2 separate regions of the Homo sapiens genome follow, and region 2 is linked to region 1. A link means that fine-mapping ties the variant in region 1 to the expression of a gene that starts in the linked region. Tissue or cell type: whole blood. Region 1 holds a variant in brackets; the other region holds the start of a gene. All regions are shown on one strand. Distances are from middle to middle.

Region 1 (9,285 bases):
TCATGCCCCGGGCATAGGCCTGCACGGTGAGCACAGCCCAGAGGCGGTGGCGGAAGGCCTTGCGCACCAGATAGGCGCGGCAGCGGGCCTGGAACTGGATGATGCGCTGGCGGGCCAGGCGGTACTGCTGGTGCAGCTTCCGGGAGCGGTGCAGGGCCTGCAGCCGCAGGAAGCCCAGACGCATCTGCAAGGACAGCCACCCCATGCTCAGAGCCTGCTGTCCCATTCCAGACTGACCCTGCCTGCAGGAGCTTCCATGGCACCGGCCTCCACTCTCAGACAGGCACCCCCAGAAGGCGTGGCCCAGTCTCCTCTCAGATTAGTGCCCCCCCATCGTTAGAAAGTTCTGTTTCCTCTCAGGCAACATATTTTTAGGTGACCTTGACTCTCCCTGAGTTGGGGCCCCCAAGAGAATCCTAGATCAGGAGCTGCAACCAACCAGTCTGCTTCCCATCCAGCCCCAACAAGTCCTAAGCCCAGCTGCTGCACAGAGGTCCATGTGACCCAGCCACTCTCACCCTGTCTGAGATCTCTAATAATCCCAGAGTGCTCCCAACCCCCAAAAACACTCCAGAAGGAGAGCAACAAACATTGCTGGCCAGTTGGAAGAAGCCACAAGAGCCAGATCCAGACTTCGGTCTGGAGGAATGGTAGTGGCTGGCCAGGGCAGTGGCAGGAGGCCAACGAGGCCAGGCTGTGCTGCCTGGGTGCAGGCCAGTCCCACTGCCATGGCAGCAAGGCTGGGTTCAAAGGCCTGTTTGGGCAAGAGCAGCCCATGGGGAGGCTCACCAGCCCGTAGTTCTTCCTACAGTTGTGACCCCGCCAGTGCCTCTGGATCAGTGTGGCAGCGTTCTTCAGCTTCAGAAAGTTAGACCTGAAACAGCAGTAGTGGCGCGGGTGAGCAGTGTCCAGAGGCAGCCAGGGTACAGGTGGGTTTGGGATCAGGAGGGCACGCTGAGTCCCAGCTCTGTGACTTCCTAGCTATATGACCTTGGGCAAGGCACATAACTTCTGTGCCTCAGCTTCCTCATCCGTACAATGTGTAGAATAATGCCTGCCCTGCCTGCCCCACAGGCCTGTCACATAAGCCCATGAAGGTAGACATTCAAAAGGTATTTGTTGAATGAATAAATGTATGAAAAAATAAGTAATTAAAATAATATAAAGATCAAAAGCTTTGAACAGTCTAACTTCCTCAGTTTATACATGAGGCAACTGAGACTTGATAGGTTGGGACTAGAGCCCATGTCTTCTGACTGACCCTAAGTGAGCCCAGTGCTGTTCCCCCTGCACACAGCAGGCTGCTTCTATAGGAGAACAGTCATCTTCAGCCTGATAGAGGACAGAGACCATGCACAGACAGCAGGGGTCTGCTGAATGTAGAAATAAATAAAGGAAGAGCGAAGGATGGGTGTGCAAGTATGCAAGTGAGCCAATAAGTCAATGCTTGGAGACACACATAAGCAAATGAGCAACTGTGGGAGTGGGTGGGTGAATGGATGAATGGAGGAATGAATGGGTAGGTGGATGGGTGGGTGGACTGATGAGTGAATGGATGGGTGGGTGGGTGGATGGATGGATGGTGGATGGGTTGGTGGGTGAATTGATGGATGAATGTGTGGGTGGATAGGTGGATGGATGAGTGACTAGGTGGGTGTGTGGGCGGGTGGATGGATGGATGGATGGATGGGTGAATAGGTGGGCAGATGGATGGATGGATGGATGGGTAGGTGGGTGGGTGAACGGACGGATGGATAGGTAGGTGGGTGGACGAGTGGAAGAAGGGAGAGAGTGACCATATGAACTGCAAAGGGGTGCATTGTGGAATTTTTGCAGAGCTTTAATCACACTTTGGAGTCAGTCCTGCACATTTGTGAATTGTCACGTGTACACATATCCCTTAGATAGAATATGAGACACATTTTGTATTAATAATTTATAAAATCTCAAATTTCCTCTTTGCAAAATTTCATCAGCATCTGACATGAACAGTGGGTCCACATGTGAGTCTCATGTATCTACGTGTGCATGTGCATATGTAGGTGAATGTATTGCATTATTTGGCTTACGTGGCACAATGGGTCCATGTAAATCATGTATCTATGTTCCTCTGTGTTTACATGATCATGTGTGCATGCCATGCATGTGTGCACTTGTTTCATAGGTGAACACGTTTTTTTCCTAGTGTTCATGCGGGCAGAGCAGAGGAGAGCCAAACACCACACGTACACCTGTATGTGGGCTGAGGAGGGGAGGAGCTGGTGGGAACACGCACCTGTCTTTGAATCCCCGGATGACTTTCTGAAGGAGGATGACTCTGTCGGTGATGGCTTTGTCCCGCTCCACTTCCAGCAGCATGTCATGGTGGTCCTAGGAGGCAGAGCTCCTGAGCAGCGCCCCACAAGGTCTCCTCTAGGACCACCTGCTCAGTCCCAGTGGGGGCTGCTCTTCCTTCACTGGGAGCACAGGTCAAGAACTCAGTTGGGCCCCATGAGCTCCCAGCTGGCTCTGGCCCCTGGGGCAGCCTCCCACAGCCACCAGGACAGACAGGGGTTGTGGCTGTTTCCCAGAGGTCCAGGCAGGACAAATGGAGCAGAAGGTGCCTAATCTCTCTGGATGGGGTCGGAAGGCCCAGTATGCACACACACCAGCTTCTTCCCTATCGTCAATCTGCCCAAGCCCCCTGCTTCTAGACGTCCCTGTCACATCAGTCCCTCACCTGGGCTGGGCTGTTGCCATTCTTCTCCCGAACCTTGGCAGCAGCCTCCTAACTAAAGGTCTCGCGGCCTCCTGGCTCCCTCTCTGGCGCTCCTTCACAAGCAGCCAGAGGGACCCTCCTCAACACAACCTGGATGGTGACCCTACAGTGACACCTCATGGTTCCCCACGTCGAGCCTGGGTTCCTCACCCTGGCATTCAAGGCCACCCATGATCCAGGGTGTCTGCCAACTTTTTCAGCCCTCTCTCCTCCTCATCCAAGACCCCAACCCTCACTGTAGTTGGACAAAACTTCATTGGTTCACTTAATATATATGAATTGAACACCTCCATGTGCTGGCACTGTGCTAGATGCTGGGGAGGGGAGGGGCTGCCACAATGAACCAGGGAGACATGGCCCCTGCCCTTGGGGAGGGTAGAGTCTCATGAGGGAGCCAAATCCATCAGATAATCACAGACACACAGGGCCCTGACAGAGGAGATGCTCAGCCGAGGCATTCTGAATGAATGAATGGATGAATGAGCATGTTTGGCCTCTCAAAACCAAGGCCATATCGGAAGAGCCTAGCAGTGTAAGTCAGGGGCTGATGGAGCTCCTCCGAGTTCCCTGGTACTAGATGCCATCATGATTCCTGCCTTCCCCACTTTGCCCACACAGGGGCTGGGCATCAGACCTTCCCAGACTAGAAGTCCTGCTCCCTGCTTCCTAGCTGCCTGGTTTCAGGCAACTCACTTCTCTCTGAGCCTGTGAAATGGGTATAATATTTCCTTCTCCACAGGACTGTTTCAAGGATTAAATGAGCTCATGGATGAAAAGCACCCACCCAGGGCCTGGCACATGGAATGTGCTTTCTGGCTGACAGCTGTGGGAGGCACAGGCAGGGAACATTCATCACATCTTGCTGATGAGGAAATGCAGGTGCAAGGAGAGAAAGGGCCTAGCCTGAAGCCCCTTGGCTGGAGAGGAATTAGAAGAGGCCGCAGGCTCCCTCCAGTTCGGAGCTGGTTCTTGTCCCTCCTGCAGCTGTCCTTGGAGTGCCCAGGCCCCACCCCCCACACCAGAGGAAGGAGCCCTGTCATCCGGGACAGCCAGAAATCTAGCACAGCGGAAATGCAAATGGGGAAGCCCAGCACTGGGAGCTCGCACTGTCCCTGCTGCGGCTGCCCTGCCACTGCCAGCTCCCAGCCATGTCTCCAAGGCTGTGACTCCGCGACTCCCGCAGGCCTTGCTTCCTGCTTCCTTCCCCAGCTGCCCAGGCAGCAATGGGAGCTGAGCTCCCTACAGAGTGACGGACAGGTGGCATGCTGCGGACCCCAGCACGGGATGGGCCCTGCCAGGCAGGAAACCACAGGAAGGAACCTAAAGATACACTCAAGAGACCCCACACAGGCACACCCCAATTTACAGATGGGAAAATGAGGCTCAGAAAGGGCCCCAAGGCAAGCAGCACCCCTGCCTCCCTGCTGTGGGCCTAACAGCCAGCCCGCCCCTGGCATGTGCTTTGTAACCTGTGGTCAGTGCTCTGACCCCACTCCCAGGTTGTAGATGATCTCAAACACCAAATTACCCTTCCCCACCAGAGAGGCCAGATCCCACCTGCTCCTCCAGCCACACCACAGCCCGGCAGAAAGGATCTCAAAGCCCCAGCACTGCCTCCCTCTCCCGAGCACCCCAGCCCACATCATGGGAATTTACAGCCCCCCCAGGGCAGCCCAGGGAAGGCATCTGTGCTCACCTTCAGAAAGATCTTGGTTTTGCCTATCTGCCAGTCATCGTGGGTGCCCAGCACAGCCTCAGCCATGCGCTGGCAAGTCCCGCGGAGGTCGCCCTGGAGTGAGGATGGGGAACACAAGGGAATGGACAGCCTCTCCAGTGGGAAGGCCTCCGGAGTGTCCCCGAGGCTGAGAGGCAGGGCTCTTCCCGAGCTCTGCCCCTGACT[C/G]GAAGTGTGACCTCAGCTGGGTCCTGCCTTCTCTGAGCCCCAGTTTTCTCCTTAGCTCAGCTGGATGGTATGATTGCAAAACCCTTTCTCACAACTGACATCCAGGGCCCGCGTGGCAGCCCTGGTCTTGTTCCTTACACCACCATGTGTGAAGTCCTCACCAGCTGAACATGGCAACTGAAGCCCACTGATGCATTCCAATACCTGAACCCCAATTTTCCGTGCTGCACCTGAGAGGTCAAGCAGATGTCAAGCCCCGCCCATGGTCCTGATAAGAAAATTGGGACCCTTGCCCAGCCAAAGCTGGGACCCTCCCCTCCTGCCCTCTGTGCACTCAGCCCTGTACCTGCTTGTAGGCCGGCTTCACACCTGGCAGCAGCACACGGTACCGCTCCACAAACTCTACGAAGCTGTAGCGGATGGGGTAGCCAGCTCGGCGGATTCGGATGGTCTCCATCATTCCTGAGTACCGCAGCTGGCGCACGCACAGGTGCCGGTCGAACAGCTGCCAGGCACACAGCCAAGGGCATCAGGGCCAAGGCTCCTGCTGGGAGGCAGCCCTGCTGTGCACTTGACCAACCCAGACAAAGGCTCAGAAAGGCCAAGTCCACACGGCATGGGAGGAGCAAAGCTGGGACAGGCACCGGGATCTGCAGCTCAAATCCACAAAAGAGCATAAAGTGAGGCCTGTCGTGGTGGAGCTGTGTGCTTTGGGAGCACAGAGAAGACAGATTAATTCCCCTTGGGACACCCAAGTGGGGAGCTTCATGGAGGAGGCGTCTTTATCACCCTAACCCTGACAGGAGGGGGAGTATTCCAAGGCTGGAGGGGGTGAGCCTGTGCAAAGGTTTGGAAGCCTGAAAGCGCAGGACTTTGCTGGGAATCTTGAGGGAGCTAGAGAGGCTCGTCCAGGCCAAGTTATGGCTGTGCAGGTGAGGGGTGCTCTGCACAGCCCCAGGGAGGACCTTTCACGTTGCAGGTATTGTAGATCTGCGGTTATTCAGACAACTTTCTAGCTGCCTTAAGGAAGAGGCACATTTTTCAAAGGGCCCTGGGGTTTGGTTGGTGGAGGGGCTGGGGAGAAAGAGTAGAAGGCAGGTGCTGGGCTGTGAGGCTGTGGGGCTCTGTGAGGGCCTCATCCATGGATGCTGGAAGCCAGGGAAGTTTTAGAGCAGGGAGAGACTGGGCCAGGTCTGCATTTGAGAACAATGTCACTGGGGGCCAGGGGAGGCAGGACAGGAGGCAAGGGAGGCAGGAGACCCTTGAGGAGGCTATTGCCAAGGCCCAGTCCACAGATGCTGAGGACTGGGCCGAGGGAAGGGTCCCACTTCAGAGCCAGGGAAGACTGTGCCCGACTGCCCTGGTGTCAGTCCCCTGCACCCCCTGCATTAGAGGGAGAGCTCACTGGAGCCCTCTGCGACCCTCAGGCCCCTGCAGACCTGAGTCCTAAAGGGGACAGGCCTCATCCACTCTGGGACATGTTTTCCAGGCAGGAGGCAGCAGGAGGGGACGGTCTTGCAGCCTGTCAGCTTCCGGAGACTGTTTCCTCTCTCTCCGGGCCACTTTCCCCGGCCTTCCTTCCCTCCCCAGATCCCGAGGCCCCAGCTTCCCCCTGTGCCTCCCTGCAGGCCTCTGGGTAAACAACCCTCCCAGAGCCTGTGCTGCGAAAGGAGAGGGCTCGCAGCGAGGTGGCCCCAGCCTGAGCCCCTTAACCTCCCTGAGCCCCCAGTCCCGCATCTCTAACCTGGGACCAGCACAGTCCCTTTCTCACGGGCTGTTTGAGAAGGTTGAAGGAGGCTGTGGACTGACCATCCAGCCTATGCTGGGCACACAGAAAGGGCCCAACAAATGTTATTCAGAAAAGTCAAGAATGAGGATATCCCAACCAGCTGAAGAGATGGGGGAGGCTTCCAGGAGGAGGTGGTGGTTGAGCTGGGCCAAAGGAGAAGGGGACTTTCAAAGAAGCAGCCCCAGCAAGAACCACAGCTGCCAATCACTGGGCACTTGCTGGGTGTGGGCATCTGCAAGCATTACTGCATGGAATAGCCTTAGGAGGTAGATACGGTCAGTCCCGTTTCCATCTATGAGGAAACTGAGGCATAAGAGAAGAAACTGCTTTGTCTGCAGTCGCCCACTTGTACATGGTAGAGGCAGGATCTGAACCTGCTGCAACCCCCCGCAGAGTCTAGGCTCTTTCCAAGGCACCTGCTGCCTCCAATAAATAGGGGGCCTTGTTTTGTAAGCTCCCGGGGTGCCCCCCATTCCCCAAAGGGACAAAGTCTCACATCCTTCACTCCCACCCTACCTTATTCTTGACCTAGCTCCTCCACGTCACCCTAGCCGCCACCCGCCAACCCCAGGCCAGGGCCACTCACCATGGGCTTCTTGAACTCATTGGGCTTGATGCATCGCACAAAGAAGGGCTGGCAGGCACCCAGCGTGCGCATCAGCAGCTCCAGTGACCGCTTGAACTGGCTGCTAAGTGTGGGCGAGCGCTTCCTGGTCTCGGCGCCCTGGGGGGACGGACGGCAGCGATGGGAGGGGCTGTGCCTGCCCCATCCAGTGTCCCAGGAGCCGCCCAGTAGGAAGCGGGAGGGGAGGTCAGCGGGGTCAGGGTTTGAGGGACAGGGCGGTATTTGAAGTTTTCCTGCAAACTGCCTCTCCCCACCTTCTGAGCTGGAGCCTGGACTCCAGATACCTCCTCCAGGAAGCCTCCCAGGACTTCCAAAGTTACCACCTCTGGGCGAGGGGGAAGTGAACCCTACAGGAAGATCTCCGCACTGGGAGTCTCAAGCCTGCCCCTGCACCTGGTGCGCTGGATAACTCTGAGCAAGGGGCAGCCCCTGAGTCTCATCCCTCCCTTCCCTGTATAAAGGAGTAATCGGACTTGGTCACCTCAGGACACTGAGGTCATCTCTAGAGACAGGGGTTAGACGAACCTAGATTCAAGCCCTGGCCCACCACTTCCTAGCTGTGTGCCCTTGGGCAGGTCACTAAATGTTGCAGAGCCTCAGTTTCCTAAGTGGAGGTGATGCCATCTATCCATCTGACCAGGCTGTGACAAGGGTCAGAGGTCAGGGCATATTTCAGTAAACAGCAACCTAGAAAGGTGGTGCCGCCTTCTGGAAACCTGTGGGCAAGCGCGAGGAGGAGGGGCGGGAGCTGCCGGTGACCTCTCCCCTCCCAGGCTTAGCCGGCAGCAGCAGGCTGGGGGCGGGGCAGGCCTGGCTAATCCTCCTAAGAAGGCACACAAGCAGCCTCCTCCTAACCCCCCGCACTGTGGCTCCGACGCAGCCAGGGGTTCTGTGCTCCACCAGCCACACCTGGGCGATCCTGGCAGCCAGCGAGCCCCCTGCGCCTCCCTGCCCTACTGGGGTCCCCTCTGAGAATACTGTGAAATGAGGTGGGGGAAGCCCTGAGCCGCAAACAAACAGGAAGCCAAATGGCAGGACTGATGGGAACTGGACACAGAGCTTAGGTTTTGTTCCAAAGCATCTTGATTAGTGTTTTCCTGGCAATTTTCATTTGGTTGAGAATTTCTTATTTTACTTGACTTCATTTGATTAATATTGCAAGATTTTTATATTTTTAGAGTCATCATTTCATCTGATATCCTGTAGCATCAAAAACCAGGGGTGTAGATGTAGATATGTGAGGTATTTGGGGGGACAAAGGTGTTGTGCTCATACTCAATTTAGGTACTATGCCACCAGACTGTGATGAGGCCTTCCGAGAAAGAGCCAGTGCCTGCGATTCTGAAATCTGCAATGCTTTCCAACTGCATTGTATTTGGAATATATTCTAGGACTTTGCCCAGAGAAGCTGGGGAGTATTTGCAATGCGGTAGGGTGGTGGTCAGATCTGTGGCCCCTGGCGTTGTCCTCAATTTGATCCAGCAGCAGCACCGGGTGACCCCGGTCACTGGAGGGGAGCTGTCCAAGTTGGGCTGTACCCAGCCTGCATTAGGGCCCCTGACATGAGTACACGCATACGCATGCACACACACACACACACAACACACACACAACCTCAGCATGCACATACACACGCCACTAGGAGCACACGCATACCACCGCGTGTACACACACGCGCACGCACACCCTTCTTTGGTCTTGGTCATCACAATAAAACGACTGCTTTCTGCCCGTCCTCCCTGCTGGGCTGGGAGCCCCATGAGGACAGGATGCGTCTGCCTCTTTATTGCTGCATGGCCAGGGCCTACATGACACAAGTAACAGTCAACACTTTGATCTACTGAAGTGCTGTTGAACTGGTTCCTAGTGACATCCATGGGTTCACAGAAATTGCCCACCTTCCCGTTGCTCCAGCCAAACATCTAGCAACTGTCCTCAGTGCCTCTTCTGTCACATCTAATATATCCGCAAATCCTACAGGCTCTACTTTCAAAATATCTCCAGAACCTGACCCCTCACCACTTCCTCCACCGTCAGCCTGGTCCCAGCCACCAGCATTGCTCTCAAATTCCTGCAGCAACCCCCCAACTCGTCTCTTTGCTTCCATCCCCCACATTCCAGGCCAACCTCCCCTGGGACTGGGGAGTTAGTGAAGAGGAAAGAGTGGGACAGCCGAGAGCCACACCTGTCTCACCAGCGTGGCCACCCTACAG
Region 2 (9,285 bases), 46 kb after region 1:
GCAGGAGAATTGCTTGAACCCAGGAGGCAGAGGTTGCAGTGGGCCGAGATTGTGTCATTGCACTCCAGCATGGGCTACAAGAGTGAAACTCCATCTCAAAAAAAAGATGTTATTTGTAAACCTAAGAATAATCATTGAGGAAAAAACTTTTAAAATACACAGAAGAGTAAATGAGAATCAAAACAGTACTTTAGAAAAAAATGTCAATTAAACACAAAAGAGCAGTAATGAGGAATTGAGGAGGAAAAGATATAAGACATACAGAAAACATAGCAAAATGGCAGAGGTCCTTCCTTAACAGTAATTACTTCATGTGTAAATAGATTAAACTCTCCAACCAAAAGGTAAAGACTGGCAGAATGGATAAAAACAAAACAAAACAAAAACCAACCACATGATCTAACTATATGCTGCTTACAAGAGATCCACTTTAGATCCAAAGACACAAATAGGTTAAAAGTAGAAGGATTTCATGCAAATAGTATTCCATGCAAATAGTAACCAAAAGACAGTTGAGATGACTACACTATCAGACATAGATGTTAAGTCAAAATCATTACAAGAAACAAAGAAGGACATTATATTTTACTAAAAGCATCAATCCAACTGTTATCAACAGCCCACAAATTTATCTTCAAACCTCCCTCTGCCCACAAATCTGGGCCAAGTACACAGAGTCCCTACCCTGGCACCACCATGAAGCTGGGAATCATGACATACTGAAGCACAAAAGCCCTCCTTGTGGTCCTTAAAGATGTGAGTCAGGTGTGCCACACAGGTGCGCCACTAGTCAGCTGGGCTAGTCCTTCTTCCAGAGACCTCAGTCCCTGTATGTTCATGAGAGGCTGCTGCAGCTGTCTCATGGCCTTCCCTGTCCACCCTCTCCCAGGGAGGGCAGAAGGCTCTCCCATTCCCAGGTGCCCTCTCATCCCCGTGCCCCCTGGAGACTCACTGTCACAGTGCCTTTCCTAGGTTTCTAAGCTGTCTCCCCACATAGGTCTGGGAACTCCTCCAGGGCAGGGAATAGTAGGTGAATGCCTGCTCCTCCTGCCTTCAAGCAGGAAGTATGCTTCAGCTGCTTCCTTGGTCCTAAAAAGAACCCGAGCCCCGGGAGCCGACCCGCTCTGCAGTTCCACAGGCCGGGCCCAGTGGGCTCCATCTTGTGCTTTGCTGTTGAGTAAGAGGGCCTTGGGCACATTACTCAGCCTTCCTGAGCCTGTTTCATCATATGCAAAATGCAGATTAAAAACCTCTATCCACCTGGTGCGGTGGCTCACGCCTGTAATCCCAGTACTTTGGGAGGCCGAGGTGGGCGGATCACGAGGTCAGGAGATCAAGACCATCCTGGCCAACATGGTGAAACCCCGTCTTTATTAAAAATACAAAAATTAGTTGGACGTGGTGACGGGTGCCTGTAATCCCAGCTACTCAGGAGGCTGAGGCAGGAGAATTGCTTGAACCAGGGAGTCGAAGGTTGCAGTGAGCCAAAATCATGCCATAGCACTTCAGCCTGGTGACAAAGCAAGACTCTGTCTCAAAACAAACACACACACAAACAAACAAACAAACAAACAAAACCCCTGTTTTCCCACAGCTGCCATTGTGAAGCTAAAATGCCATTTGGGACTCCATGAAAATGCTTCTTCCTTCATCTGCTTCCCTGGACTGCCTCTCTCCTCCTCTCTTCCTGCCAGTTCCTTCCCTATCCTGAAAGATCCACGGGAAATGGGATGAAGGCTGTCCCTCATGTCCAGGGCTCATCAGGAAGCCCCAGGTAGGCAGAGAAAGGAGGAGGACTGTGGACCAGGCCCTGGGGTTTGCAGAGCAGGGAAGCCTCCCGAAGGAAGTAGAGGCTACACTGAAGCCTGAGCAGAAGTCAGCCAGGCAAGAGGGGAAGCCAAGCACTCCGTGGACCTTTCAGGACCGGGAAGGATGTGGCAGGAAGAGAGGAGGAGAGGGCAGACCAGGGAAGCAGAGGAAGGAAGAAGCATTTTCATGGAGCTCCACATGGCATTTTAGCCTCTCATCGGCAGCTGTGGGAAAAGAGGCTTTTAATCTTCATTTTACATATGAGGAAACTGAGGCTCAGGAAGGCTGAGTAACGTGCCCAAGGCCCTCCCACTCATCAATAGCAAAGCCTGGGCTGGAGCCCATTAGGCCCGGCCTGTGCAACTGCAGAGCTGGCCGGTTCCCCAGGGCTGGGGCTTTCTTCAGGACCAAGGAAGGAGCTGAGTGTACTTCCTGCTTGAGGGCAGGCAGAACAGGCATTCACCTACAAGACACTTGCTCCCAACAGAGGCCACCCACAGCTGGAGGTGGGTCAGCGTTCAGAGGGGCAGGAGAGGAGGGGGTGGTGAGGAGGTCCCATCAGCCAGAGGCCTGCCTCAGAGGCCCCCTGAGGGAGGACGCCCCTGGAGGGCTATGGGGGCCCAGGCCCTGGCACACAGCAAACACTCAGCGAATGGACTTTTCCTCTCCTAGATCCTGCCCATCTCTAATGGGCGTTTGAACAGGCTCTCAGGCCAAGGGGCTCTAAAGGGGGTCTCCTCCAGCCCCTGGGATAGAAGAATGTCTGTCCTGATGCTGCCCTGAAGCCTGCCTCTCACTCACACACACAGACACACACACGCGCACGCACTCATATGCAAACATGCTGGTCCGTGCAGCCTCAGGGTGGCCAGGCAAGGCTGAGCCATTGGCCTCTGGTGACCCTGGAGACCGAGAAGCTGCTGGCCAAGCCCCCATAATGCACAGCCCCACAAGCCCTACGGCCTGCTGCCAGGCCCACCTGGCTCAGGGCCCACATTCCTGGCTCCTGCTCTGGAGGCCAGGAGCTCATTAGAGCCTCAGACTGATCACGGGGAAGGGCTGAGGGTCAGAGGCCACTGTGGCCCTCAGTAGGAAGGGGGGCTGGAGGACTCAGCTCGGGCCAGCACCTCTGCTTCTTCCCATAAAATCCCAGGGGGCTCCAGCTCAAGCCTTGTCACCCCCCGCCCTCCAGTCACTGCTCCCCAAGGCCCTAAGAATAAGTTGGGCTCAGGGCCCTTCCTGGCCTGGCTTTGGGAGCCTTGCCAACCTCCTCTCCTCTTCCCCAGGGACCTTCCCACACCTGGGCCTTTGCACATGCTGTTCCACTGCCTGGGATCCAGAGATGTGTGTAAATAAACTCATTTCTGCCCAGTGGGGTGAGCCAGTGAGAGAAGGAAACCCCAGCTGGCACAGCAGAGGGAACAGGTTTCAGACTAGGCCTCAGCCTGGAGGGCTGGGTTTGGAAGCCTAGGCAGGAATTTTCCAAGAGAACACCCTGGGGAGGGTGTCCCACGGGTAAGCATATGGATGAGGGGATATGGCCTGGGGAGGACAGGCCACCCAAAGAGGTGGGAACACTGACCTGCTGAAGAATCACCATGGTCCCAAGTCAGGAGCTCCTGCTGCCCACTGGGCCAGGCACAGTTCTGCAGGGAGAGAGACCATGTCATGCTTCTGGGCAGGCCAGCCCTGGAAGCCTTGAGCCTGGCTGGGGTCACCTGGGCTCCTCCCAAAGCCCCAGCTCCTCCTCCCTCAAGGGAACCCTCCTTGGCTTCTCTCCCTCTGACCACTGCCCAGCCTGTGTGACCTGAGCCTCAGCCACTGTCACCAGCACCACTGCCCAGAGCAGCTGAATTCTTCTCTCAGCCACTGTCATTCAGAGATTCCCAAAGGGCTCCTAGAAAGTAGCAAGTCTGGCCCCACCAGGGACCTACGGCAAAGGGGCCCAGAGAGGGACCAAGACTTGCCCAGGGTCACACAGCTAGCCAGAGCAAATTTAGGACTAGGACTTAATCTCCGGCACTCAGCTTAGGGACTGCCCCAGGAATGTGGGTGACAAGGACAAGCCTGACTGAGCAGAAGGTCAAGGGCTGGGCATGACCTGCTCACAGCACACCCTGCCTGAAACCTCTCAAGAGCACCCACTGCCCTCAGGATGGCTCTGTGCAGAGCACTGGCTGCTGACGGGGAGGCAGGGTCATTGGGGTCTGTCTCTGGCTGTGCTGCTGAATGCACCGCACCTGGGCCTGGGCCCGGGCCCGGGCCCGCCCCGCTAGGCCCAGCACAATCTGGCCCCTGCTGATGCCTCGGTCTTTTCTCTCACTGCTCACTCCCTTTCCTACCCTTATACTTGGACATCCTCAGTGACTCACTGTTCCTGAAATACGCCAGCTCTTGCCATCTCCTGGCCTTCACACACTGGCCCTTCTACCTGAAATTTTGACTAGTGAATTTCCACTTATGGTTCATGGCTCAGTTCAGATGATACCTCCTCCAGGAAGCCTTCCCTGACCACTCCCAAGCTGCCAAGAGCCTCTATATTCCCCTTTATCCCATTTTGACTATATGCATTATGTTGTCAGGGTAAGGGTCAGTCCCACCTCTGCCCCCAAAGTTGGCGAGTTGATCCAGGGCAGGATGTGGCCAATGGGAGAGGGTCTGAGACATTGCCTTGTCTCCAGCCTTGTCCAGCACAGGGCCAGACCCAGAGACGGCCTCAGGAAGGAGCTTAAAAGGCAGCCCCAGCCTACAGACCCTGGTATGAGGCCCCTCTGGCTCCCAACCTGTCTCCTAGAATGCGCATCAATTTTTCACAAGGGCCCATTCAGAGCCGCCGGGGCATTCGATCCTCTGCCCATGACACTGCCCGACATCCGAGCCCTGACCCCTGCCCTGGAGCTCTGGGACACAGCAAACCCACAGTCCTTCCAGAGACCTGAACTAGTCTGGATGCCTGGTGGAGATGTGGATTCAACAGGGCCAGCAGGCAGTTGCCACCGGGCACTTGTCTGAAGATGGTGCCCAGGCTGTGGAGCAGGCGCCCTATGCCAGCATGAGCCATGAGGGCTGGGGGCAGAGCCAGTGCTTTCACTAGAGACATGGGGCTCCAAGGGATGGGGGAGAGTGGTGAGGGCGTGAAATTTAAGGGCCACATTTTAAAATGACCAGACAGACATTTCATTTCTAAAAATGAGAACTAGACCACCTTCAAGTTAATTTCTTTTCCAACTGACAACAGGGGGCATAGACTGTATTTGTATTTCTATGTCTATACCTGATTTTACCTCTTCCCCACTACAACCCTGGCTGTTGGGGCTTCATACTCCCATTTCACAGATGGGATATTTGGGGCATAGAGGAAGGAAGTGACTTATCCAAAAACGGAGATAAAGAGTGTCAGAGAGAAAGCAAAGGAGACAGAGAGAACGGACTCTTCTCTCTGCCACCACAGCATGTCTATTCCCCTGGCCCCAGGATGCCACTAACCCCAGCCCCAGCTCAGAGAAGATTCGATGGACAACATGCTCCTTGGCTCTTCCCTCCTCCAGGGGACACACATCCATCTTCCCAGGCTCGGGACAGTTTCATTCAGTGGCTGTGGTGGCTGAGCCCTCAAGGGTGGCAGGAAGCCCAGTCCCAGGAGCAAGTGGCTGTGGGGCAGAGGCTCTAGAGGTAGCTCAAGTCCATGACTCCTCCACATCCAAACCCCTCCCAATGCCCAGGACAGTGGGCAGCCCATCCTTACCTGGGGCCCAGCTGCCCACTCTCAGTGACCTGCCAGCCTGGTACAGCTGCCACCTGCACGGAGGACTCAGGAAGCTGGGTCACGGGCCCAGCCAGTCTGCAAACACACGTCCCCTCTTCCTCTGTCTGGCTCCAAGTCTCGTTCTAGGCGTCCCTCTGGGTCTTTCCCTTCCTCGCCGTCTCTCTGTGTGTGTCTCTTGTCTCTCCCTCTCTCTCCTGCCCAGAGCAGCTGTCCAGCCAGCACTGCTGCCCTCCCCTCCTCACTCCAGAGCCTTCTCCCAGGAGGCGGAGCCGGAGGGGGCCTCCAAGGTCTGGGTGCGGTGACATCAGCGTGGGGGACGGGCCGTGCTGGGGCTGGGACTAATGTCCAGAGGCTGCTCAGGGCTCTGTGCAGAGCACTGGCTGCCGACAGGGAGGCGGGGTCATTGGGGTCTGTCTCTGGCTGTGCTGCTGAATGCACCGCACCTGGGCGTGGGCCCCCCAGGCTAGCTTCAGGTGCCTCCTGTTGTTTGCAGGACACCGCCTGCTGTCTCAGCACCTGAGCAGGAAACCGCACCTGATCCTGACTTAATCACTGATGTGCTGGGGTCTCAGCCCCATTTCTTCCTCCTCTACCTGGCTGTTTGGGACTCAGAGAGGGAACGGTCAGGCAGAGCATGGCAGGAGGGAGAGTGCTGAGCTAAAGCCCTGCCTTCTGCGCCTTCTCCCTCCTGCACACCCACCCTTGCCTCTGATGTGTGTTCTCTGACGCTGGTCAATGCAACATTGCCCCCACAACCTGCTCTGCGGGTTGGGGACACATGTTATTCCGTAATCATCCAGAAACTTTGCCAAACCAGCTGACTGGGAGCCACCCCACGTGTGACAGCGACACAGATAAACTGAAGTGAAATCTGTGATTTAAAGGAGTGGGGGGAACCAAGCAAAGAGGAGCACACGTCTTTGTTATTAGCGTTGTCGAGGATGGAGACCTCGCGCGGCCCTATCGGGACATGACAGTTTCTCCTTTCCGCCCTCGGCAGCCACGCAGCTGTCGGCGGCCCCATAGTGCACCTCGCCAGGGCAGCTCTGGGTGGCAGAAGGATGTCTCTTTTGGGTCCCTAGCCCCCATAACTGGGGTGTCTGCAGGGAAGCTGCCCAGAAGGTGGGGTGGGGGCCCAAAGGGGCGCTATAGCTCGCCAGCGCCGCCTGCTGGTCACAGGCCCCACTGCCCAGCTGCTTCCGTCAGGCGGGCTGAGCACCGCTGGGAAGTGACCGTGACAGGAGTCAGCTTCTGCTAGGGCCTGGGTCCCCTCAGACCCGACGACCCTGTCCCAGGAAGACCCCAGGATGCCGTCTGCCCCTTAGCCTGCTGGCCTAACAGGAGTCCAGGAGTCCCTGGAACACAGTCCCCACCTGGGATTTGCACCTGCTGCCGAAACCCAGTACTGGCCACTCCTCAAGTCCCCCCTCTCCATCCTCCCAGGCTGGGCGGGGCCAGTGGCGTCAGCCCTACACGGATGGGGAAATGAGACCCCGGGGGAGCACAGGAGAGCCCATGGCACACGACTGGCAGCAGGGACAAAATGCAGTGAGCTGTGGGAATGGGGCAGAGAGGTGGGCAGGTTATGGGGGACAGGGCGGCCTCCAAACACCAGGATGACAGCTACATTGTGTTCAGCCATGCTATGAACCAGGCACTATGCTAAGCAGATCACACGATTTGCAATACCCATTTCTCAGTCCCATGAAGAAAGCGAGGCATCTCGGTTCACTTTGCCCTCACACTGCACTCACCCCGTCTCCCAAGTCGTTTTTCATTGAGTCGTCCACTCTGCTTTCAGTCATCCCAACCCTGCTTCTCCCCACCACCACACCAGCTTCCTGGCCCTAGATGCCTGCATCTGCCCTCAGCAGCCTCCGCTCTGGTCCCCCCACACCTTCCTGTGCCCCGAAGGCCCATCTCCTCTTCCCAGCCCTTCATGCACAGATCAGGGAGTAGGCCGTCTCTAACCCAGCAGGCCCACACTGCCCCATCAGTAATGTGCGGGGTAGTGTCTGTCATGACCAGAGTATGTCTTTGTTCTCGCTGCTCGTTTGTAGACTGTCCCAGAGCAGGGATTGCTATGCCTGGTTCCCCACATCCCAGGTGCCCGGGGCAGGCCTTGGCACAAAGCCAGCCCCGTACAGATCTACTGAATAAAGGAATGACTGAATGATCCCCACAATCTCAGCTCACAGGTGCACCGGGCAGGCAGCGGGGCCTTCCCTCTGACCAGCGGACAGTCGCCCAGGCCTGGGGAATATTCCTCCATTGTCCCTTCCCCCCAGGGGGACAGAGGGACACAGGAAAGTCTTTTTGGAATTTTGTAAGATTTATTGAGAATAGAACAGGCTTCCTGTCCCCTAACCCTGTGGTGGATCCTGAGAAGAGGGAAGCCTAGGTCTGGGTGGTGTGGGCTGGAGGCCCTACCCACCTGCAAATGGGGACTCCCAGGCCCCCGCGGGTGCATACAGTGAACAAAGTAATTGCTCTCCCCTATCACCCCTGATCCTTACCTGCCTGGCCCCCAAGGTCTCCTGGGGACCAGAGATCCCTGCATAGCCAGGAGCCAGCCTGGCCCACCTCAAGGGGCAGGAAGCAAGGGTAGCACTGTGGAACCTGTTTTTGTCAGGGGGTGGCAGGCATGCCCCGGCCCCGAGGCTGAAGCCCACAGGTCTGCCACTTGGTCCTGGTGTGCCCCTGTATCCCAGGGGACATGGCTGAGCAAAGTCCTATGTGTTAGCCTGAGGTGCAAGCTGGCTCACTTCACCCCCTACTCAGGAGCCTTGATTTGAAATAGACATCGAGAAGTGGTGATTACATGAATGTATATATATATATATATATATATATAGTGCGTGTGCATACAGAGATACATAGAGAAAGGGGTATTATTTTGCCCTTACTCAGCACTCGGTAGTAACAGTGCTGACACACAAGAATCATTGGCCCCACTTTGTAGAAGGGGGAAATCGAGGCACAGGAGGTTTAAGTGACTTGCTCCCAGTCATGCAGAGTCCCGGCCCCAGGCCCAGGTTCTTGAGGGGAAGTCCCGGCTTTCAAGAAAGAACACTCTTATCCTCCTTGTCGTTCATTTCCTGGCCCCTCATATGGCCCAGGGCCAAGACCCAGGAGCAAAGCCAGACACAGAGTGAGGAGGCAAAATCAGAGAATCCAGCACCTCCAGCCAGAACACTGATCCAGACAGCAGGATCTGGAGTCGGAAAGTCAGGTTCCCAAAAGGAAATCCCAGCAAGGACACAGGGATTCCTGTTCTTGAATTAACTGCACTTTTTCATTTGCTACACCTGGTCTGGAAGCCCGAGAAGGGCACAGCAGAGATCCCAAGTGGGTCACGGCACCAGTGCTCACGAAGAGTTCTCCAGAGGACCAGCAAAACTGGAGCCAAGAAGAAAAATGGAGGTTCAGGCTTTCAATTTTCTTTTAAAACCCCTGATTAAAATTGAGATTTTCAAAACAAAAAGAATATAAAACATTGAGGACTAAAAGGAACATTTTGGTCTGGGCAGGAAGAAGAGCACTGCGGCCTCCTAGGCTGCATTTTGGGGGAATGTTGGTGGGGGGCTGTGGTCAGGTGATGGGGCTCCCTATCTCCTGCCGAGCCCAGTGGGTGGCCTGACTCTGGTGAGCACCACACACCCCAGAGTCCCATCTTCCAGGAAAAGCTGGGGTCTTACAGCAGAGAGGCT

What was found. PIP is the estimated chance that this variant, and not a neighbour inherited with it, causes the effect.
Region 2: MYO7A starts here. The variant in region 1 is fine-mapped to the expression of MYO7A in whole blood (TOPMed, PIP above 0.99). The same link has a PIP of 0.9 or more in blood mononuclear cells, monocytes and monocytes after interferon gamma.

Annotation. Positions count from the first base shown.
Region 1 is chr11:77,170,634-77,179,918 of GRCh38, reverse strand. MYO7A (myosin VIIA) reads right to left here. Exons shown (of 49, transcript NM_000260.4): 16 at 7,034-7,171; 17 at 5,005-5,163; 18 at 4,455-4,547; 19 at 2,276-2,370; 20 at 790-874; 21 at 1-184. Among named protein-coding and RNA genes, the nearest start is that of MYO7A, 47 kb to the right of the region's middle. The variant C/G (reference allele first, on the strand shown) is at 4,659.
Region 2 is chr11:77,124,759-77,134,043 of GRCh38, reverse strand. It overlaps MYO7A (myosin VIIA), which reads right to left and starts at 5,798. Exons shown (of 49, transcript NM_000260.4): 1 at 5,555-5,798; 2 at 3,392-3,455. The coding sequence starts at 3,409. It overlaps CAPN5 (calpain 5), which reads right to left. Exons shown (of 13, transcript NM_004055.5): 13 at 7,889-9,285. RefSeq lists enhancers at 2,053-2,774, 4,220-4,943, 5,666-6,389, 6,390-7,112.